Linked DNA regions of Homo sapiens: region 2 is linked to region 1. The links come from fine-mapping of genetic effects on gene expression. A gene starts in region 1. The other region holds a variant in brackets. All regions are shown on one strand. Distances are between the middles of the regions. Region 1 holds the start of CLIP2 (CAP-Gly domain containing linker protein 2). Region 2 overlaps CLIP2 (CAP-Gly domain containing linker protein 2).

Region 1 (11,968 bases):
GGGCCGGGTGACATAACGCACAGATGTGCAACCATAGGACTCAGGGACTGCGGGGCTAAGTGAGTAATAGCAGCTGTGGAGGACGGTCTTGAGGCTGGAAACTGACAGACTGCAGAGGGGCCCTTAGCCAGCACCTTTAGAGACTTCCCCCAGCAGGAGGAAGTTGGGAGTGTTTTCCCTAAGTGAGGAGCGGTGGTGCGTGCCTGTAATCCCAGCTACTTGGGAGGCTGAGGCATGGAGGATTGCTTTAGCCCAGGAGTTCAAGACCAGCCTGGGCAACATAGCAAGACCCTATATCAAAACATAAATAAAGCTTTTTAAAATTTTTGCTGGCCTTTGCTGGCCCACTTCTCTTGCAATAACAAGGTCTGAATAAGCAGGCTTTGCTTGTTCTCTTTGGGGTGGTCTTCATTTATCAACACAATCCATGCGAAGTTTTTTTGTTTTTGTTTTTGTTTTGAGACAGAGTTTCTCTCTTGTTGCCCAGGCTGGAGTGCAATGGTGTGATCTCGGCTCACTGCAACCTCCGCCTCCTGGGTTCAAGCGGTTCTCCTGCCTCAGCCTCCCAATTACCTGGGATTACAGGCATGAGCCACCACACCCGGCTAAGTTTGTATTTTTAGTAGAGAAGGGGTTTCTCCATGTTGGTCAGTCTGGTCTCGAACTCCCAACCTCAGGTGATCTGCCAGCCTCCACCTCCCAAAGTGCTGTGATTACAGGCGTGAGCCACAACACCCGGCCTCATGCAGTTTTAAGCTTAAGCTTCTCTCGTAACAATCCTCAGCCATGTCAGCTTTCCTTCACACAGCAGGGGAGGCCTTGTTATCTTCCCTTGGGAAATCCGGGGAGGCTGCATAGAAAAAGCCCCCATGCATCTTGGAAACCCCCAACGAGGGGAAGTCCCCCTATCACCTGGCAGCAGAGAGCTACTATGGCCTTCCTTTACCACTGGGCTGTTTCCACTAGCACTGTACCAAGCCAGAGGGAAGTACCGGAGCTTCCTCCAAGACCGATATACCCCAAGGTGGGGAGAACTGGATAAAGGCAAAGTCCATGCAGTTGAAAGTAAGGGTGTGGCCACCGGCGTGATAGCCTTAGCTGGTATCTCCGTGGTGATGCAATTCCCAGCCTGTGCCACCTGCCACCCTGTGCAGCCTCTGCTCTGCTAGGCAGAAAGGTCACAGCAACATCCAATCATTTCAGCAGAAGCGGTTTGGGTTTAAGTTTCTTTTATTAGTCCCCAAAGCAGCACATGCCTGTTGCAGAAAAATTCAGAAAAGGGAAGAAAAAAGTCCCACGGATTCCCCCCACCCAAAGCCCACCACAGTTACCAGTTTTTTTGAGACAAGGTCTCACTTTTTCACCGAGGCTGGACTGTAGTGGTACGATCTTGGCTCACTACAACCTCCGCCTCCCGGGTTCAAGCGATTCTCCTGCATCAGCCTCCTGAGTAGCTGGGATTACGGGCATGTGCCACCATGCCTGGCTAGCTTTTTGTGTTTTTAGTAGAGACAGGGTTTCATCATGTTGCCCAGGCTGGTCTCCAACTCTGGGGCTCAGGCAATCCTCCTGCCTTGGCCTCCCAAAGTGCTGGGATTACAGGCATGAGCCACCACAACTGGCCCACAATTTTAAAAATAAAATAAAATAAAATGGGATCTTGCTCTGTTGCCCAGGCTGGAGTGCAATGGTATGATCATAACTCACTATAGCCTCCAACTCGTGGGCTCAAGTGATCCTCCCACCTCAGTCTCCCCACTCGCTGGGATGACAGGCATGAGGCACTAAGCTTGGCTCCATATCCGCAGTTTCATGAAGTGTATTTTCCTGGTGGGTGTAAATACGTAACTGTTTCCCCACATTATAACAAATGCCTTGTAAACAGCAGTTCAGACACTGCAAACATATCCCATCCTGTAGCTGTCCTATGGATTCTAAAATGAAAAATAAAAAAATAAAAATAGGCCAGGCGTGGTGCCCAGAGCCTGTAATCCCAGCGCTTTGGGAGGCCGAGGTGGGAGGATCACTTGAGGCCAGGATTTCGAGACCAGCCTGGGCAACATAGAAAGCCTCTGTCTCTACCCCTGAAAAAGTAAAATAATAAATAAACAAATAAATAAATAAATAAATAGTATACCAGAGAGATCGCCACCTGCAAAGCAGCCCAGGCCTCTCCCGTGGCTGGCCCATTGCAGGCCTCAGAGAATTCAGCTCTGGCTCGAAAATTATTCCCAACTCTCTCTTCCCATGAAAAATCCTCCCGTGAGGCTGCTGGTCACAGCCGGCGTCAGCAAGAAAATGACCAAATCAGCAGTTTCAGTGGAGACAAAAGGCCTGGGTGAGAGGTCGGCTGGGAGAACACCCCCTCCAGATCCCCCCGCCTGCCTCCCCACCCATCACGGAGGCCTGATGCCAGGGCAGGGGCCAAGGCCAGGACCCCAACCCTCACATCAGACAGCATCAGGTTCATCTACTGAAAGAAGCAGAAAAACTCGAACGCAAACTTTTTTTTTTTTTTTTTTTTGAGACAAAGTCTTGCTCTTGTTGCCCAGGCTGGAGTGCAATGGTGCGATCTCAGCTCACTGCAACCTCCGCCTCCCGGGTTCAAGTGATTCTCCTGCCTCAGCCTCCCAAGTAGTTGGGATTACAGGTGTGTGCCACCATGCCCGGCTAATTTTTTGTATTTTAAGTAGAGACGGAGTTTCACCATGTTGGCCAGGCTGGTCTCGAACTCCTGACCTTGTGATCCGCCCGCCTTGGCCTCCCAAAGTGCTGGGATTACAGGTGTGAGCCACTGTGCCCGGCCCCCCAAATGCAAACTGTAACAAGACAGAAGCCTGTCTTCTCTCATCTGGAGCAAGAACAAAAGGTGTCCCTCTCAGGTGACTTGCTCTTTGAAGCTCCACTCACCAGCGGCCAGGTAAGGTCTGTTGACCGCAGGCTGTTGCTCTGAATAATACTGGGGGCCATCAGTGAGGGAGGCAGTACCTGTGAAGGTTGGGGGCCCCTGCCTACCTCCTGAGGCACATGTGGGAGGCTAGATCTGCTGGGCAGGGGCTGGTGAGCTCAGGTACATCCCAGCAAGACCCATGTCACCTTGGCAAATCCCTGCCCCATCCCGTCCCGTCCCGTCCCATCCCATCCCATCCCTTCTGTTGCCCAGGCTGGAGTGTAGTGGTATGATCTCCACTCACTGCAACCTTCGCCTTCTGGGTTCAAGCCATTCTCAAGCTTCACCCTCCCGAGTAGCTGGGATTACAGGCATGTACCACCACACCCAGCTATTTTTTGCATCTTCTGTAGAGATGGGGTTTCATCACGTTGGCCAGGCTGGTCTCGCACTCCTGACCTCAGGTTATCTGCCCGCCACCACCTCCTAAAGTGCTGGGATTACAGGTGTGAGCCACTGTGCCTGGCTGGTTTATAACTGTTGATATACAGGTTATGCATCCCAGCCACAAGGAACAATTAGCTCCCTGTTTCCTGAACACTGCCCTCTCCACCCTGAGTCCCCTCCCTCCCTATGGGTTCACACCTCCTACAGAAGCCCAGTCTTTCTGGAGTTCACTCTGAACCTCCTCCCTTATTAGTCTCCAAGTCTGGCTCTCCACACCAACTGGGCACCCCCTCAGGGCTGACCCCATGCCCAGCCTCCATCATTACAGCATTGCATGTTCGCTGAACTGAATTGAAACACTCTCCCCAATTTACAGATGGGGAAACTGAGGTCAAAATGTTTAGGCCAGGCACGGTGGCTCACAGCTGTAATCCCAGCACTTTGGGAGGCTGAGGTGGGAAGATCATCTGAAGCCAAGAGTTTAAGACCAGCCTGGACCCCAACATAATGAGACCCCATCTCTATAAAAAACACAAAAAATTAGCCGGGCATGGTGCATGCCCGTAGTCCCAGCTACTCTGGAGGCTGAGGCAGGAGGATCATTTGAGCCTGGGAGTTTGAGGCTGCAGTGAGCTGTAATCACACCACTGCACTCCAGCCTGGGTGACAGAGTGAGACCCCTTCTCTAAAAAAAGGTTCACTCACTTCTCAAAGATTATGGATACCAAGACAGTTGAGGGGTGGTAATGTTAACTTAGTAAGTTCATTCATTCATTCAACAAATATTACTGGATGTCTACCCTCTGCCAAGCATTGCACTGGGTCCCTTAGGGGATAGGAACAAGATCGTATGTGGCACTTCTCTCCCGCAGAACAGTGGTCTCACCATACAGACCACAACCTCCCCCAACACCCACATTCCTGCACTCAAGGGAAAAGCAGGGACATTTAAGCTGTGCTTTGAAGGGGGAATATGATTTGTCAAACAGAGAAAGGGGGCAGGGCAGGACTGGTAGAACGGCCAGCTAGGTCAAAGGCATCCAGGCGAGCTTATCAAGGGGGGACAGAGGGAAACCAAGCCACAGAAGCCAACCGCAGCCTGGGCATGGACAGGGGCTGGGGCTTGGTCACTGTTTAGTTCCTGAGCTGTCACTTGGCATCTGCCTCTCCACGCAGGAGGGGACCTGGCAGCTGCCTCAACTCCTCTGAAATAGCAGTACATGCATCCTGTCCTGGGGAGGGTTCATTTGTATCTTGGAAGCTGATCACCATGAGATCCTTTTTTTTTTTTCTTTTGGGACGGAGTCTCGCTCTGTCACCCAGGCTGAAGGGCCGTGGCTTGATCATGACTCACTGCAGCCTCGACCTCCTGGGCTCCAGCGATCCTCCCACCCCAGCCTCCCCAGTAGCTGGGACCGCAGGCGCGCGCCCAGCTAATTTTTGTATTTTTTGTAGAGACGAAGGTTACGTTGCCCAGGTTGTTCTCGGACTCTTGGCCTCAGGCGATCTGCACGCCTTGGCTTCCTGAAGTGCTGGGATTACAGGCGTGAGACACTGCCCAGGCTATGAGATCCTTGATAACCATGAGACCCTGTGCCACAGTTCCCCACCCACGCTGGCCCCAACACAGACCTGAAGTTTTCGCCCCAGCTGCACTGTCCCCCTCCTCATCCTTTCTGTCCAGCGCCAACAGCATCTCACCTTCCCAAGCTGCCGTCCTTCCCAATGACCAGAGACATCTTTGCAAGCATAGCATGGCTGGAGGATGCGTTTCACCAAACGCGATGTAAGCACCACCAGGTGCCCAGCGCGGAGGTGGATGTGGGCGAACCCTGGACGCCCCACAAAGGACAGCTGCGGCCTGGGAAGGGAAGGAGATGGAGCGGGGAGAGGGGGAAGAGGTTGCTCCGCGTTTTCCGCCCGCCCGCCTGCTTTCCGCGAGGCACTGAGGCCTGAAAACCGCGAGGCCGCCCACGCGCGCCTGACCCGCCCCCCCCTCCCGCCCGCCCCAGGCCCCGCCCTCCCGCGCCCGCCCCTGCGCCGGCCCCTTTTGTTCCCTCCCGGAGCCGGGCCGCTGGCTCCGCTGGCTCCGCTGGCTCCGCGGGCGCTCAGCTCGGCTCGGCCGCGGGGCGCGCAGGCGGCTGCTGGGCGGCCTCGGTGCGCGCCTCCCGCCTTCCCAGAGACGTGGCGCGAGGCCCGGGCCCTGAGCACCTATCGCGGGGATCCCCGGCGCCAGGAGGGGGTGCAGCCGGTGGGCAGCGCCGCGCAGGGAGGGGCCGCAGCATCCTCGCCCCCCAGCGCGCCCGGGCCCGAGAGGAGGAGGCCGGGGCTCTCCGGGCCTCCCGCCGCTTAGCCTGATGCTGGAAGGACGAAGGTAGGGGCTGCTGGAGGGGCCGAGGGAGGGGGTCGCGCGGGCAACAAAGGACGGAGAGATGCGGGGGGCGGCGGCCTGGCCGAAAGCGGGGCTGCGGGCCCGGAGGCATTGTCGGGGCGTGGGCGGGGGCGGGAGGGTTCGAGGCCGGCCGGTGGGCGTGGGCGGGAGCTGGCTGGGGTGTGCCCCAACTTCCCCGTTGCTTGTAGGAGAGGAGGGGGCACTGCTTGGGGTGCCAGGGTTGGGGGCTATTCCCGGGCTGCGGGTCCCCCTGTTGAAGGCATCACCAGCCTCATCGGGGTCCCTACCCTCGGACGGGGGTTTGGCCCTTCTGTTGGAGGGTCGCCCGTACCCCCTTCCAAGGGCAGAGCAAGACGGCTGGACGCGCCGCAGGGCTCTCTGGGCTCACAGAGCCTGGGGAGCACAGCCTGGTGGGCGCGGCCATGCAGCCCCCATCTCCAAACCTGGGGTCTGGGAGAACAGGGACTGCCCCCCTCTCCTCCCTGCTACACCCTCTGGGGTCGCCTGGCCGATGGCCTTTGCAAAACTTGGTTGAAGTGCTTGGCTGAGGTGGGGTAGGAGGAGATTGAGGCGGGCGGCTTCTCTCAGGGGGTGTCCCCCCAAGCTGGCGCTGGTGGCTGGTGAGGCAGCAGATTTTCTGCCCTCCTCCCGGGGAGGGGCGGCGGCCGCGGAGGATGCTTGGCTGAACCTTCAGGGCCCGCCCGTTTGGACCTTTCAGGCAGAGCTTGGGCCGAGCGGGTGCCCACTGGGCACTGCCACGCAGGCCCCAGCCCCACCCTGGGAAGGACGGGCAGAGGGAGCACCTTGGGGGGAAATCACCCACCCAGCAGTGTGTCCCCCAACGTCTGAGACCCCTCCTCTCACTTCTGGGTGAGAAGTGGGGGTCTGGGATGAGGGGGTCTGCCGTCACTCTTGCGCGATGCCTGAGGGAGGTGGGTGGGGTGGCCTAGGGCTGTGGGCAGAGGAGGAGGAGGGTGCGGGGAGCACCACGTGTGTGCTTCAGAAGCCTCTTCCCTTTCGGTTGTAAATGTAAACAATAAGCCCTTCATTCAGCTGCTGTTACCTGGCCTGGCACTTCTAGGGGCTGGCTGGTCCACAGGACAGCAGCCTCGGTGTCCCCAAAAAGTGCAGCCCCGGGGGTTGATGAGTGCATTAGTGGGGAAGCTGGGGGCATAGAGGGGGTCCCCTGGAGGATGGGGCAGACCAGGAAGCTTCATAGAGCATCTTGCAGAAGTTTGCTGCCAGGTTGCCTGAAGGGGGTTTCGTGCAGGAGAAATAGCGTGAATAAGGGCTTGGAGTCAGAAAAGGAGGCTATTGGGTTAGAGAAACAGCTTAGGATTTAAGGAACTTAGACCTGCGTTGAGCACAGGATGCATTCTTGTCTGCAGTGCCTTGCGGGGGAATGATGGGATTCTGGCTTCAGGACAGGTGGAGGCGGTGGAGATGGAGAGGGGCTCCAAAGGCAGAAGAGGCAGGTGGAGGCGCCTGGGAGGAGCCTCCTCCACACACACCTGTGTGCACCTGCAAACTCCAGCCCTCAGCACCGTGCAGGCTGGGAAGGTGGTGCCTGGAATTCTGCACTCAGAGCCCAAAGTCCCAGCAGGGGGAATTTACTCCAAGGAGCAGTAATCGCTTTCCGGCATCTGCTGTCTACCTTGGCGGTGAAGAGTTCAGATGCTGGAGCTTAACAGCCCGGGTTCAAATCCCAGCTCTGCCACTCCCTAGCTATGTGACCTTGCACATTGCATCTCTCTCTGCCTCGACATCCTCATCTGTAAAATTGGGATCCTTATGGTATCTGGCTTTTAGGGTTGTTAGGAGAACTGTGTGCCCTGTGACAGAGTAGATGTCCTATAAGTGTTGTTGCTGCCGTACAGAGTGGCTTCCTGGCCCCACTCACACACGTTTCAGGGAGAGGAGGCTCGTGCCCCTTCCAGGCTGTTTGTCCTTCTTCAGCACCCTTGCTGGTTAGCCCTGACCCGGCACCTGCTGTTCTCTGCCTCACTGCAGCCTCCTCCCTGGTCCTGCCTCCCTTGGTGATAGAAAGGCCATCTCCCCACAGCCCCAGTTGTCCCTGCTCCCCACCTGGCAGGCCTGCCCACGTGTGGTCCCCCAGTTCCCTCTTGGCCTCCCCTCCTGGCCCTGCCACCCTGACAGTTGATCCTGCCCTCTTTTTTTTTTTTTTTTTTGAAATGGAGTTTCACTCTTGTTGCCCAGACTTGAGTGCAATGGCGCGATCTTGGCTCACTGTAACCTCTGCCTCCTGGGTTCAAGCAATTCTGCCTCAGCCTCCCAAGTAGTTGGGATTACAGGCATGTGCCACCATGTCCGGCTAATTTTAGTATTTTTAGTAGAGACGGGGTTTCACCATGTTGGCCAGGCTGGTTTTGAACTCCTGACCTCAGGTGATCCACCTGCCTCAGGCTCCCAAAGTGCTGGTATTACAGGCGTGAGCCACTGCACCCAGCCAGTTCTGCCCTCTTGACACCACCTGCTCTACCTCCACTTCCATACACAGGGGAGGGAAGCTGCATTTGTGACCCTCAGATTCCCTGCTCATTGGTTCTTGTGAGAACTTCAGCTTTTGTGCAGGTTGAAAAAAAAAGTATATATTAAGTGCTTACTTTGTGGAGAATTGTTCTGAGCTTTTTTGAGACAGCATCTTGCTCTGTCGCCCAGGCTGGAGTGCAGTGGTGCCACCTCGGCTCACTGCAACCTCCACCTCCCAGATTCAAGTGATTCTCCTGCCTCAGCTTCTCGAATAGCTGGGACTACAGGCCCATGCCACCAAGACTGGCTAATTTTTTGTAGTTTTAGTAGAGGCAGGGTTTCACCATGTTGATCAAGCTGGTCTCAAACTCCTGACCTCAAGTGATCCGCCCACCTTGACCTCCCAAATTGCTGGGATTACAGGCGTGAGCCACCACGCCTGGCCTGGTTCTGAGCTCTTTAAATTCATTCCTTCATTTGTGGATATTTTAATAAGGTTGCCTACATTTTACAGATAAGAATATCCTGGCACAAAGAGGTGGCTGTGTCTGCCCTTGATGGATTTGCTAAGCACCTACTGTATGCCTGGGAGGCATGCTTCCTTCGGCCACACCATTCTACCCACCCTCTTCGGGTTCATGTCCCTGAACAATTATGATTCTGCCTTCTCAGACACCTATCCCTTTTGCTCAGGTGCAAAGTCCAAACACGCTATCTAGCTTTTAGGGTCCGCCCCCAGTTGGCTGTATCTTTCCACTGCAGCTCTCCCCATGCTCCCAGGCTGGGCACACCCAGGCTTGCCTCACCTAAGGCTGACGTGGCCCCTTTAATAAACTGTGAGGAGTGGGCATGGTTTGAGGAGCAGGGCTGGCTTTGAGGGTGGTGTGGGGGTGCCCTCCGATCCCATACCTTTGGGATTATTTTGTTGCAAGGAACAGGAACCTGCTTCAATTAGGTTAAGTGAAAAGGGACTTAAGAGTGGAGAACAGAGAACTTGTGCAGCAAACAATTGGAGGCGACCTGGCCCCCCGGGACCCCGGAAGCTGGCAGGCAGCTCCTCCTCTGGCTTTCCTCTCTGTGGACTGCGGTTTCATTTTTTCGGCCTCTCTCAGCGCATCTGTCCCGTCTCCTTCTCCTTTCCCCTACAGGCTCCGTCTCCTTGGGTTGTGAGTGTGGCTGTGTTGAATGGGGCTGTAGCCTGAGTCCACGGGACCTCCCAGTGGGGGTCTCCTTCATCTTGGGGTGCAGAGAGACACTGATTGGTCCAGCCTGGATGAGGAAGCCCACCCGCCTCTGCTCGGCTAGTGGGGGGGCAGGTCACGTGGTCTCTGGGGCTGGCACAGTTGGGATAATTGGTTGGCTGCATTGATGATGAAGGTTGTGTGTTAGGTGAGGACCAGCAAATCTGGGCATTCAGGGAGTTCATGAGCTGATGGGGGAGGCAGACCCGTGGTCAATTAGCCATTGTGCCACAGGATGTGGGACTTGCAGCATGATTTGTTGAAAGAAACCAGAGTGCACTGATCAGGCCAGTGTGGGGAGGAGAGGACAGGTGGGATGGCCAGGGCTGCCTGCCACTGGCTTCCCCCAGCCCTGCCCCGGGACAGGAGGAGGCTCTCTCCTTTCAGGACCTGGAGATTTGGGTCCAACCGGCAGCGTGGGACTCGGGCTTTTTTTTTGTTTTTTTTTTTGAGATGGAGTTTCGCTCTTGTTGCCCAGGCTGGAGTGCAGTGGCATGATCTCAGCTCACCACAACCTCTGCCTCCCGGGTTCAAGTGATTCTCCTGCCTCAGCCTCCTGAGTAGCTGGGATTACAGGCACGCGCCACCACGCCTGGCTAATTTTTGTAGTTTTAGTAGAGATGGGGTTTCACCATGTTGGCCAGGCTGGTTTCGAACTCCTGACCTCAAGTGATCTGCCCGCCTTGGCCTCCCAAAAGATAAGGAGTTCAAGACCTAGTATTACAGGCGTGAGCCACTGCGCCCAGCCAGAGCCTCCTATCCTGGCTCTTCTCACTGGGCTGCAAGGCTAGGGCCGTCACAACAGAACCAGTAATACAAAACTCATGTTTGCAGAGGAAATGCTTCAAAATGTTAATGAAACGTTTCCCTTCTGAATAGAAGGCAGAACAGGCCAGATGGTTTTTATTAACGAGGCCTGAATTTAGGACCTTCTCTACTTAACGGCTTCTGTCTTGATGGAGCGTTTCTTGCTCCATGGCTGGGATCATACCTTCCACTCTAGCCTGAGCCCTGAGCGACACCCGCTCCCGATTCATTTCCCTCCTTTGCCTTTTTGGTCCCTTGGGATGAGAGGGCGGAATTTCCGGCTCACCAGGAGGAGCGCCTGGTTTTTCAGCGTCACCCCCGTCACCCTGAGGTCTCAAGCTGGTCTGCCCTTGCCTGTAGCTAAACCTGGCTGATGCTGCCCTAGCTCCTTTTGGGGGTGCTCCAGCCCCTGCCCACCTCACAATGTGCAGCATTGAGCTTCCACAAGCTTTTACTAAATTGGGAAGACATCCGCCCTGCTTCCTGACAATGTAAACAATATCAGCCCTTTCCAGAAACATTTCAAGGCCAGACACTTTGATGCCTAGTGGAGCTGTTGGCTGGGCAACGGCTGCATATTGATCTGAAGGTTATGCAGGGAGGCTGGGCTCTGGTGTGGTGGGTGGGGTAGTCTGAAGGGCTTCCTGGAGGAATAGAACTGGGGCTAGGTTTTGTTTTGTTTTGTTTTGAGACAGGGCCTGGCTCTGTCACCCAGGCTGGAGTGCAGTGGCGTGATCTCGGCTCACTGCAGCTTTGACCTCCCAGGCTCAAGCCATCATCCCACCTTAGTTAGCCTCTATTAGCTGTGATTACAAGTGCATGTCACCATGCCCAGCTAATTTTTATATTTTTTTGTAGACAGGGTTTCACCGTGTTGCCCAGGGTGGTCTCAAACCCCTGAGATCAAGCGATCCTCCCACCTTGGCCTCCCAAAGTGCTAGGATTATAGGTGTGAGCCACTGCACCCAGCTGGGGCTGAGTTTTGAAGCATAGGTGGGCTTGAGGCAGTTAAGGAGGGCATTCATGATGGGGGCAAAGGGAGAAAAGTTGAGAAGCTGGGGCAGCAGGGAGTAGAGTGTCTGTCTAGGGGCTCAGTGAAAAACTCACCATTCTCCCACATTGAGTGTGAAGTTGGGGGAGTTATACTGGCGGCGGGGAGAAGTAACGTTGGATGTCTGGGTTTTTTGCCACCTCGTACCTTTCTACTTCGCTAGCCTGTTCCCTTTTGTAATGTAGGCTGTTCCCTGCACAAATCCATTCATTTGTTTCTTTACTTTGCTCATGTTCAGCTTCTTTGGAGCCAGGGGCCACAGAGGAGAGGGAAGACATCTGAAAGGGGCTTGTGTGTTCTTCATCTGATTCCAGAAAGGACTTGAGGTGATTTACAAAGATAAACGCAGTATAACCAGATTAAAAGTAAATGAGAAAATTAGGCCAGGCATCAGGGCTCACGCCTGTAATCCCAGCACTTTGGGAGGGCAAGGAGGGAGAATCACTTGAGCCTAGGAGTTTGAGAGCAGCGTGGGCAACAGAGCCAGACTTCATCTCTACAGAAAATTAAAAAATTAGCTGGGTGTGGTCCCAGCTACTCTGGATGCTGAGGCAGGAGGATCTCTTGAACCCAGGAGTTTGAGTCTGCAATGAGCTATGATCGTGCCACTGCACTCCAGCCTGGATGACAGAGTGAAACCCTGTCTCCAA
Region 2 (11,968 bases), 120 kb after region 1:
TCCCCTAACTCTTCCAGACCATCGGCAATTCCGGTTCTGCAAACGGCATCCACCAGCAGGACAAAGCTCAGAAACAAGAGGTGAGGGGCGCCTCGGGCCTCCCAGGTCCCTCCCGTGCAGGCAGACCTCTCTGGAGAAAATCCTTGAAACGTCACTAAGAATACACACAAAGATGCATTCTGCAAGAAGCTTTACAGTAGGGTCCCTCAGGGAGGGTGCTGTTGCAGGCAAACTTGATTCCAGATTCACCCTGCTCTTTTTGATTTGTGTTTTCTTCCCTTCTTAAAAAAGTTATAGGTTGGGCGCAGTGGCCCACGCCTGTAACCCCAGCACTTTGGGAGGCCAAGGCAGGAGGATCATTTGAGCCCAGGAGTTTGAGACCAGCCTGGCCAATATGGTAAAACTCCGTCTCTACTGAAAATACAAAATTAGCCGGGTAGGGTGGACAATATAGCGAGACCCTCTCTCTATTAAAAAAAAAAAATTTTAAAAAGGCTGGGCACAGTGGCTCATGTCTGTAATCCCAACACTTTGGGAGGCCGAGGCCGGTGGGTCACTTGAGGTCAGGAATTTGAGACCAGCCTGGCCAATATGGTGAAACTCCATCTGGCGGGCGGATCACAAGGTCAGGAGATCAAGACCATCCTGGCTACCACGGTGAAACCCCATCTCTACTAAAAATACAAAAAAAAATTAGCTGGGCGTGGTGGCGGGCACCTGTAGTTCCAGCTACTCTGGAGGCTGAGGCAGGATAATGGCATGAACCCGGAAGGCGGAGCTTGCAATGAGCCGAGATCGCGCCACTGGACTCCAGCCTGGGCGACAGAGCGAGACTCCATCTCAAAAAAAAAAAAAACCAAAAAAAAAAAAAAATACAAAATTAGCTGGGTAGGGTGGCGCACACCTGTAATCCCAGCTACACGGGAAGCTGAGGCAGGAGAATCGCTTGAACCTGGCAGGTGGAGGTTGCAGTGAGCCGAGATCGCACCATTGCACTCCAGCCTGGGCAACAAGCACAAAACTGTCTCAAAAAATAGTAATAAAAATTTTAAAAATTAGCTAGGTGTGGTGGCGCATGCCTGTAGCCTCAGCTACTCAGGAGGCTAAGGCAAGAGGATCACTCAAGCCCAGGAGTTTGAGGCTGCAGTGAGCTAGGATTGCGCCACTGCACTCCAGCCTTGGTGATAAAGTGAGACCCTGTCTCTAAGAAGAACACAGAAAGAGAGAGAACCTAGTTCTGACTGCAGAATCCCTGGAGCACAGATGCTCGCTAGAAACAGGAGCAGCACAGCCACAGAATCTGCCAAGCTCCAGACACAGGCAGGGTTATGTGGGCAGAGCCAGCCTCAGAGGAGTTAGTGTGATTTTGTCCTCCTGGCCTTGTTCTCCTGGCCACCCTGCGAGACACATGGGGTCATCCCAGTTCACAGATGTGAAAACTGTCCAGGTGCAGTGGCTCACACCTATAATCCCAGCACTTTAGGAGGCCAAGGCAGGTGGATCACTTGAGGTCAGGAGTTTGAGACCAGCCTGGCCAACATAGCGAAACCCCATCTCTACTAAAAATACAAAAAAAAAAAAATCATCTGGGTGTGGTGGCACATGCCTGTAGTCCCAGCTACTCGGGAGGCTGAGGCAGGAGAATCGCTTGAACCCGGGAGGCAGAGGTTGCAGTGAGCCAAGATCGTGCCACTGCACTCTAGCCTGAGCAACAGTGAGACTGTCTCAAAAAAAAAAAAAAAAAAGAGAGAGAGATCCAGCCCCGTACAGGCACTGAGGGCTCTTTGTAAAACCTGCTTCTGGCTGGGCGCAGTGGCTCATGCCTGTAATCCCAGAACTTTGGGAGGCCGAGGTGGGTGGATCATGAGGTCAGGAGATCAAGACCATCCTGGTCAACATGGTGAAACCCCATCTCTACTAAAAATACAAAAATTAGCTGGGCATGGTGGCGCATGCCTGTTATCCCAGCTACTCAGGAGGCTGAAGCAGGAGAATCGCTTGAACCAGGGAGTCGAAGGTTGCAGTGAGCTGAGATCAGACCACTGCACTCCAGCCTGGCGACAGAGCAAGACTCCGTCTTAAAACAAACAAACACACAAACAAACAAAAAACCTGCTTCTTCCCCTCGGCTCCGCTTCCCATCAGCACCTCCCACCCCACCTGCTGTCTCACACAGCCACAAACACACAGCAGGGAGACACTTCCTGCCTCAGGGCCTTGGCACATGCAGTTCGCTCTATGCTCCTCCCCCACCCGGCCCCAACTCCTTTCCTCCCTGACTCCCCTCTGGCCGCCTGGCCCTCCAGGCTCTCTGAGACCCTTGCTGATGATGCCCTTTACTCTCTCTAGGACAAGCACTGATCCTGAGGGGATACTGTGGAGCAGCCCAGTCCACACCAGAGCCCCACGCGGCTGCCCGGCAGTACCTCCTCCAGGCAGGAGCCGGGACTGTCACTTTGGAGACAAAACAGTGTTTGTAACAATAACGTACTCACCGCCGCGGACAATCCCCCACCCCGATCCCTCGCCAGACCAGGACGCTTCCTCAAGCCCAGCCTTCTACAGAGAGTGTGAACGGTACAGCCCCGGCCTGACCCGGGGACCTTCAGCCTGGACACCCGGCAGCTTCTGGAGTTTGTCAGTGGAGGCAGAGGGGATCCGGCCAGGCCCCTCTGTCCAGAAGGAGCTGCCCTGAGGACCATCTTAGCGGCCCTGTCCTCTTTTTCCGCCCATTCTCCCTCGGGTCTCCCCAGAGGGGCCGGCGGGGGCTGGGGAGGGGGTAAGTTTATCCATGCAGACACCAAGGGGGAGCATCCAGTCTTTAAGAGCCAAGTGGGGGCCCCTTTTCCGAAGCCACTTCCAGGCCAAGGCAGTCGCCAGGGCTTCTTGTCCCCACCTTCTGAACCTTCTTCAAACAGTAGTACAAGCTCCCCTCAGCCAGCCTGCCTGCCCAGCGAGGCCCCCAGGTTCAAGGTGTTGGCGGGGGCGGAGGGCAGGGGAACGGGATCCTTCTCCCGCTGCCCACCAACACCAACACACACACACCTCTAAGCTGCTGGCCGAAGATGTCACCAAGGCCAAAGACACAGTATTATGAAGGTTTGGAAACCCCTCTCCTCACCTCCCACCGTGACCTTGGGCAAACCCTGGCTCGGAGCCCAGGGCAGAGGCAGCTCAGAGTGGAGGCTCTAGGCAGGTTTGACAAAGGTCAGTAATACGGTTTCCCCTGGGGTTGACCAGATGTTCCAAAATATCTGCATCCACCTGGAGATGCAGCTAAGTGGGTCCTTATGTACACACCACGTTCACACACACACAGAGGGACCACGTGTGCACGCATGACCGTGTGGGTGGCGGCGTTTGCTGTGAACCACGCTCAGGCCACACAGAGACACATACTTGGTTTCTGGGACTGAGACCCAGGCCTGGCAGGACCGTGCCTACAGATACTGCAAACGTTCCTACAGCCTAGAGGTGCGTATACACACCCAAGTACACGCAGCCAGGCATTCAGGGGTGTGTTTGCCACATGGAGCATCCCTTCCTGGTCTTGCCAGGCACCTGCACAGAGCGTCTCCAGCCCCATCTCCTAACGGGGGCTGGGGGTAAGAGAAATCTAACTGCGCTCCCCCAACCCCTCGCCCTGCCATCTTCCCCTCAAGCCTGCTAAGTTATCCCAGGCCTGTGCGTGGTGGAAAAAGCCAGCCTTGGCCCTGCAGCCTCCACCTCGCCGCTGGGGGACCAACAGGTTGCTTACAGCTTTGCACCCCGGCATCAGCACAGGGGTCCCTGCCCCACCCTCCGGCAGCTCAGGGAGTGTTTTCCTGTGAGGCCTCCCCCATCAGTGGACCAGAGGGAGAAGCCCGATGCCCCATCCCGGCTTTCCCGTAACGCACAGGACACGTGTGCAATTCATAGGAACGGCCCAGATCGCCCTCATGAGTGCCACCTGGTACAGGTAGGTGGCGCTCACGTTCCTGCCCAAATGCAGCCCATCGGGGAGTCACAGTCAGTCCCCCCGGCCCCCCTCCCAGTCCCTGTTGGCTTTCGGTAGCTCTCGCATGCAGTTCTATTAACAGCCGTCTAGAAGCGATGCTTTAGTGGCCTAACCCAGGGTCAAATACAGCTCTTTCTAGCAAAATCAGGCAGCTCTGCCCCATCGGTAGGGGCACCGATTAGTCTACTAACAGCCAGAGGTCCATCTAG[C/G]AGGGTGCCGGGAGGAGCTGAGCCCCCGGAGGTGGGCTCCTGGTGACGGGTGTCCAAGAAGCGGTTTCCTTGGGAGCTTCTGCCTCCGTGGGCCTCTCAGCCCGCCCCGTGTGGCCGCCCGGGTGTGGCTCAGCCATGTCCCCTCCCCAGGTCCTTCATTCACCCCTCCCCTCCCCACAGTGGAATTGTTGAAGTGTGGCGAGTCTGTGCTCGGGACAATAAAGCTTGTGACAGGTCCAGGACCCCGGCAGTTGGCTTGTCTCCTCCTCTCCGTGGGGACCCCGGGCTTCTCGATCTCTCCCAATTCTTGGGCACCCTGGTGCCAGGAGATGGCCCCCGATCCTGCCCTCTGCCAGCTCATTCCTTCCCAGGTAGGCACGGCCTCAGAGGGGCTGGAGCTGAAGACATCTGGGGCTGTCCTTGTCCCAGGAGAGGCACCTTAGCAAGGACAGGCAGAGGACAGACCCAGAAAGGCTGCCAGAGAGGGCTGGTCCTGGGTTCACATTTGAACCTGCTGGAGGGATAAGTAGACCTGCAAAAAAAGTCAATGGAAACGGTAACGGATCCGCTCACACACGTGTGATGAGTCCGAGGCGGTTTCCAGCTTCAGTGGGCAAATTCCGGTTCCCGCAGCAGGCTTTCCGGAGATCAGATCAACAGCACGACGTGTTGCAAACTTTGTGGTCAAATAGGCTTTCAAGTGGAGGTTGCCCCCCTGGAAGAGAGAATGAGAATTTTTTTTTTCTCCCCAAGATGGAGTTTCACTCTGTCACCCAGGCTGGAGTGCAGTGTCACGATCTCTGCTCACTTCAACCTCCGCCTTTCAGGTTCAATCAATTCTCGTGCCTCAGCCTCCCAAGTAGCTGGGACTACAGGTGCGTGCCACCACACCTGGCTAATTTTTGTATTTTTAGTAGAGATGGGGTTTCACCATGTTGGCCAGGCTGGTGTTGAACTACTGACCTCAAATGATCTGCCTACCTCGGCCTCCCAAAGTGCTGGGATTACAGGAGTCAGCCACCACATCAGTTCCTCAAAATGTGTTCTTTAAAATTATTATTATTATTATTATTATTTTGTAGAGACAAGGGTTTCACTCTGTTGCCCAGGCTGGAGTGCAGTGGCGCGTTCTCAGCTCAATTCAACTTCCACCTCCCAAGTTCTTGTGCCTCAGCCTCCTGAGTAGCTGGGACTACAGGCACATGCCACCACACCCAGCTAATTTTTGTATCTTTAGTAGAGACCGGGTTTCACTATGTTGGCCAGGCTGGTCTCAAACTCTGGACCTCAAGTGATACGCCCGCCTCGGCCTCCCAAAGTGCTGATGTTATAGGCATGAGCCACTGCACCTGCCATTTTTGTTGTTGTTGTTTTGTTTTTGTTTTTTTTTAGACATAGGGCCTTGCTCTGTCACCAAGGCTGGAAGGCAAAGTCTCCATCATAGCTCACTGCAGCCTCCAACTCCTGGGCTCCAACAACCCTCTCACCTCAGCCTCCCAAAGTGTTAGGATTACAGGCATGAGCCATTGCGCCTGCCCAACTCTTTTTTAACTCTTTGATTTTGAGATCATTTTAGACTTACAGAATAATTGCAAAAAATAGTGGCATTCCCATACATTCTTTCCCAGCTCCCCCTGACATTAACATCGCACATAACTGCAGTACAATGACCCAAACTAGAAAACGAACATTGGGCCAGGTGGCTCATGCTTATAATCCCAGCACTTTGGGAGGCCGAGGCGGGAGGATCACTTGAGCCCAGGAGTTCAAGACCAGCCTAGGTAGCATACCAAGAACGTTGTCTCTTTAAAAAAAAAAAAAAAAAGCCGGGCATGGTAGCTCATGCCTGTAATCCCAGCACTTTGGAAGGCCGAGGCTGGTAGATCACCTGAGGTCAGGACTTTGAGACCAGCCTGGTCCACATGGTGAAACCCCTGTCTCTACTAAAAATACAAAAATTAGCCAGGCGTGGTAGCGTGCGCCTGTAATCCCAGCTACTTGGGAGACTGAAGCAGGAGAATCGCTTGAACCTGGGAGACTGAGGTTGCAGTGAGCCAGGATCGCGCCACTGCATTCCAGCCTAGGCAACGGAGCAAGACTACATCTCAAAAAATATATAAAAAATAAAAATAAATAAACAATTACCTGGGTTTGGTGGTATGCACCTGTAGTTCCAATTACTTGGGAAGCTGAGGCAGGAGGATCGCTTGAGCCCAGGAGTTTGAGGCTGCAGTGAGCCATGATCACACCACTGCACTCCAGCCTGGACCACAGAGTGAGACTCCAACTCTAAAAATAAAAAAATCAAAATGGGTAAAGGATCTGAATACATCTTGCTCCAAAGAAGATGTACAAATGATCAATAACACATGAAAAGATGCTCAACAACATGAGTCATTAGGGAAATGCAAATCACAACCACAAAGAGATACCACTTCATACCCACTAGGATGCCTAAAACTTTTTAAAAGATAGTAGCAAGTGTTGACAAGGATGTAGAGAAATTTAAACTCTCATATATTGCTGGTGGGAATGTAAAATGGGGCAGCTGCTTCAGAAAAGTTCGGCAGTTCTTCAAAATATGTTTTGTTTTGTTTTGTTTTTTAAGACGGAGTCTCACTCTGTCGCCCAGGCTGGAGTCCAGTGGCACGATCTTGGCTCACCGCAACCTCTGCCTCCCAGGTTCAAGTGATTCTCCTGTCTCAGCCTCCCAAGTAGTTGGGATTACATGTGTGTGCCACCACACCCAGTTAATTTTTGTATTTTTAGTAGAGACAGGGTTTCGCCCTGTTGGCCAGGCTGGTCTTGAACTCCTGACCTCAAGTGATCCACCCACCTTGGCCTCCCAAAGTGCTGGGATTACAGGCGTGAGCCACTGCACCAGTTCCTCAAAGTATGTTTGTTTACTTTTTTTTTTTTTTTTTTTTTTTTTTTTAGAGACAGGGGTCTCACTATGTTTGTTGCTCAGGCTGGTTGTAAATTCCTGGGCTCAAGCAATCCTCCCGCCTCACCCTTCCCAAAGGGCTGGGATTACAGGCATGAGTCACCATGCCCAGCCCCAAAATGTTAAACACAGAATTACCATATGACCCAGAAGTTTTACTCCTAACTATATACTCAAGATAAATTAAAGCATTTCCACAGAAAATTGTGTACACACATGTTCATAGCAGCATTATTTGTAATAGCCAAAAAGTGGAAATAAAGGTCCAATCAACAGACAAATGGATAAACCACATGTGGTCTATCCATATAATGGAACATTATTTGGCCATAAAAAGGAATGAAACGGCCAGGCGTGGTGGTTCACACCTGTAATCCCAGCACTTTGGGAGGCTGAGGCAGGCAAATCACTTGAGGTCAGGAGTTCGAGACCAGCCTGGCCAACATGGTGAAACCCCATCTCTACTAAAAGTACAAAACAATTAGCTGGGTTGGTGGTGTGGGTCTGTAATCCCAGCTGTTCAGGGAGCTGAGGCAGGAGAATGGCTTGAACCCGGGAGGCAGAGGTGACAGGGAGCCAAGATCACGCCACTGCACTCCAGCCTGGGCAACAGAGCGAGACTCCGTCTCAAAAAAAAAAAAAAAAATAGAATGGGCCGGGCGCAGTGGCTCAAGCCACCAGCACTTTGGGAGGCCAAGACAGGCAGATCACAAGGTCATAAGATCGAGACCATCCTGGCCAACATGGTGAAAACTCATCTTTACTAAAATACAAAAAATTAGCCACGCGTGGTGGCGCACGCCTGTAGTCCCAGCTACTTGGGAGGCTGAGGCAGTGGAATCACTTGAACCTAGGAGGCAGAAGTTGCAGTGAGCCGAGATTGCACCACTGTACTCCAGCCTGGCGACAGAGCAAGATTCTGTCTGCCCCCCCACCAAAAAAAAAAGAATGAAACACTGATATTTGCTACAACATGGATATACCTCCAAAGCATCCTGTTAAGTGAAAACAGGGAGACACAGTCACGTACTATATGATTGCACTTACGTGAAATATCCACAAAGACGAATCCATGGAGAACAGGCAGATTGCCGATTGCCAGAGGCCAAGGGCTAAGGAAAAAATGGTGAGGAACTGCGTGATGGAAATGTTTTGGAATTCACCTGACCAAGAAACAGTAAAAAACAACAAAAAGGAAGGAAATGGTAGAGGTGGTAGCTGTATGACATTGTAAATGTACTAGGGCCTCTATGCAGTGATTAAATTAACGTTATGTGCCCTTCACCTCACTAAGATACTTTCTGAAAAAGAAGCTGGGCGCTGTGGCTCCTGCCTGTAATCCCAGCACTTTGGGAGGCCGAGGCGGGCGGATCACAAGGTCAAGAGATCGAGACTATCCTGGCCAACACAGTGAAACCCCGTCTCTACTAAAAGTACAAAAATTAGCTGGGCGTGGTGGCAGGCGCCTGTAGTCCCAGCTACTAGGGAGGCTGAGGCAGGAGAATGGCTCAAACCCGGGAGGCCGAGGTTGCAGTGAGCCAAGATCGCACCACTGCACTCCAGCCTGGTGACAGAATGAGACTGTCTCAAAAAAAAGAAAAAGAAAAAGAAAGCTATCCTTGTCTACTAACAAGGAAACTTAAAAAAAGAAGAAAAGGCTGGACATGGTGGCTCATGCCTGTAATGACAGCACTTTGGGATGCTGAGGTGGGGGAGGATTGCTTGAACCCAGCAGTTCATGATCAGTCTGGGCAACACAGTGAGACCTCATCTCTACAAAATATTAAAAATTAGCCGGATCAGTCGCCATGGCTCAAGCCTATAATCCCAGCACTTTGGGAGGGCGAGGCAGGCAGATCACTTGAGCTTAGGGGTTTGAGACCAGCCTGGGCAACATGGTGAAATCTTGTCTCTCTATAAAAATATTTTTAAAAATTAGCAGGGCATGGAGGCGGGTGCCTGTAATCCCAGCTACTTGGGAGGCTGAGGCACGACAGTCACTTGAACCCAGGAGGCAGAGGTTGCAGTGAGCTGAGATCACACCACTGCACTCAAGCCTGGGTGACAGAGCAAGACTCCATGGGGGGAAACAATGAGCCAGGTGTGGTGGTGCATGCCTGTGGTGTATGCCCAGCTACCTTGGAGGCTGAGATGGGAGGATCACCTGAGTGTGGGAGATTGAGGCTGCAGTGAGCTGTGATCATACCACTGCACTCCAGCCTGGGCAACAGAGTGAGACCTTGTCTAAAAGAAAGAAAGAGAGAAGGAGAGAAGGAGAGAAGGAGAGAAAGAGAGAGAAAAGGAAAATGAGGGAGGGAGGAAAGGAAGGAGAGAGGGAGGGAGAGAGGGATGGAAGGAGGAAAGGAAAATCTAGCCGGGTATGGTGGCACACATCTGTAATCCCAGCACTTTGGGAGGCCAAAATGAGAGGATAGCTTGAGCCCAGGAGTTAAAGGCTGCAGTGAGCCATGATTTCATCACTGCACTCCGGCCTGGGCAACAGAGTGAGACCCTGTCTCAAAAAAAAAAAATTACATTATGATAGTTGCCATGGTTTCACATGTATACCAGTATGAAAAATTATTATTTGTTAATAATAACATCAAAGGCCGGGCATGGTGGCTCACACCTGTAATCCCAGCACTTTGGGAGGCCAAGGCGGGCAGATCACCTGAGATCAGGAGTTTGAGACCAGCCTGGCCAACATGGTGAAACCCCATCTCTACTAAAAATACAAAAATTAGCTGGGCGTGGTGACAGGCACCTGTAATCCCAGCTACTTGGGAGGCTGAGGCAGGAGAATTGCTTGAACCTGGGAGGCGGAGGTTGCAGTGAGCTGAGATCGTGCCATTGCACTCCAGCCTGGGGGACAAGAGCGAGACTTCATCTCAAAATAATAATAATAATAATAATAATAATAAATAAAAATAACAATAACACCAAAGTGTATTAGGAATACAATTTGGAACAGTAATAAATGAATATTTTTAATGGTTCAAATAATTTCAGGGAAAAAACTCAATCAGTGCAATTTATCATGTTAACAGAATAAAGTAGGAAAAACCTACCAAGAACTGTTTGAGCAACTGCACTAGACTGCAGGGTGTGGGCAGAGGGTGAATGAATCTGTTTGATGTCACTTGATTTAAAAGTTGTACGGGGGCTGGGAGCAGCTCACGCCTGTAATCGCAGCATTTTGGGAGGCTGAGGCAGGTGGATCACTTGAGGCCAGGAGTTCAATACCACCCTGGCCAACATGGCAAAACCCCGTCTCTACTAAAAATACAAAAAAAAAAAAAAAATTAGCTGGGCATGGTGGCGGGTACCTGTAATCCCACCTACTCAGGAGGCTGAGGCACGAGAATCGCTTGAACCCGGGGGGGGGCGGAGGTTGCATTGAGCCAAGGTTGTGCCACTGCACTTCAGCCTGGGTGACAGAGTGAGACTCTGTCTCAAATACAAAAAAAAAAAAAAAAAAAAAAGTGAAACTGTTTTTAAAAAAAAACAGTAGGGGATTGAATGTGGATCTAGGGGGCCAGCAACAGCTGGCTGGGTCTGTGGTTCAGCAAGATCAGCCTGGATTGGGGCTCCAATCTGTTCCTGTTTTCTCACCAGCAGTTCCACTGTGCTGTAAGGCGTTAGTAAAGGGATGAGTGAAGGTTGGAGAGTGCTCTTATCTGCTATTATCCCTCGCCTCCACTAAGATTCTGACATCTGAGGCTGAAGAAAATGACAAGACTATCCGGGCGGGGAGGCTCATGCCTGTAAACCCAGCACTTTGGGAGGCCAAGGCAGGTGGATCACTTGAGGTCAGGAGTTCGAGACCAGCCTGGCCAATATGGCGAAACCCTGTCTCTACTAAAAATACAAAAATTATCTGGGGGTGATGGTGCACATCTGTAGTCCCAGCTACTCTGGAGCTCTGGAGGCTGAGGCAAAAGAATTACTTGAACTCGGGAGGTGAGGTTTCAATGAGCTGAGTTCTCGCCACTGCACTCCAGCCTGGGTGACCGGGTGAGACTGTGTCTCCAAAAAAAAAAAAAAAGAAAGAAAGAAAAAGAAAATTACAAGACAGCCCAGACCCCAGACCCTGCTTGAGGTTCCACAGTGAAAAATACCCAGATAGAGCACACTCTTAGGAAATATTCTCCCAGGGGTGGGTGCAGTGACTCATGCCTGTAATCTCAGTGCTTTGAGAGGACAAGGTGGGAGGATCACTTGAGTCCAGGAGTTTGAGACCAGCCTGTGCAACATGGTGAGACCCCATCTCTACAAAAAAATAAAACAATTAGCTGGGGATGGTGGTGTGCACTTGTAGTCCCTGCTACTAGCGAGGCTGAGGCAGGAGGATCACTTGAGCCCAGGAATTGGAGGCTGCAGTGAGTTATGATCGTGTCACTGCACTCCAGCCTTGGTGACAGAACAAGACCTTTTTTTGAAAAAGAAAATATTCTTCCAGGAAAATCTAGAAGACATGACATCTCAGACATTTGAAAATTGTAAGCATTATGGATAGAAGAAACCTGGATATGGTGATGATCTTTATTTAGTGTGAGCTATGCAAAAAAAGTAGCATGATGGCTGGGCCCAGTGGCTCACACTTGTAATCCCAGCACTTTGGGAAGCTGAGATGGGAGGATCACTTGAGCACAGGAGTTATAGACCAGCCTGGGCAACATAGCAAGATCCCATCTCTATAAACAAATGTGGTTTTTTGTTTGTTTGTTTGTTTGTTTGTTTGTTTTTTAATTAGCCAGGCATGGTGGCACATGCCTATAGTCCCAGCTACTCTGGAAGCTGAGGTTGGAGGATCGCTTA

The links.
Region 2: its variant is fine-mapped to the expression of CLIP2 in monocytes (Fairfax 2014, PIP 0.95).

What each region holds. Positions count from the first base shown.
Region 1 is chr7:74,284,024-74,295,991 of GRCh38, forward strand. It overlaps CLIP2 (CAP-Gly domain containing linker protein 2), which reads left to right and starts at 5,384. Exons shown (of 17, transcript NM_003388.5): 1 at 5,384-5,711. It overlaps LOC107986742 (a long non-coding RNA gene), which reads right to left and starts at 5,284. Exons shown (of 2, transcript XR_001745024.2): 1 at 5,039-5,284. RefSeq lists enhancers at 761-1,000, 5,738-6,382, 6,383-7,026 and silencers at 5,303-5,772, 5,793-5,862, 10,556-10,850.
Region 2 is chr7:74,401,488-74,413,455 of GRCh38, forward strand. It overlaps CLIP2 (CAP-Gly domain containing linker protein 2), which reads left to right. Exons shown (of 17, transcript NM_003388.5): 16 at 18-80; 17 at 2,350-4,448. The coding sequence ends at 2,361. Among named protein-coding and RNA genes, the nearest start is that of GTF2IRD1, 46 kb to the right of the region's middle. RefSeq lists enhancers at 3,179-4,043, 4,044-4,906. The variant C/G (reference allele first, on the strand shown) is at 4,207.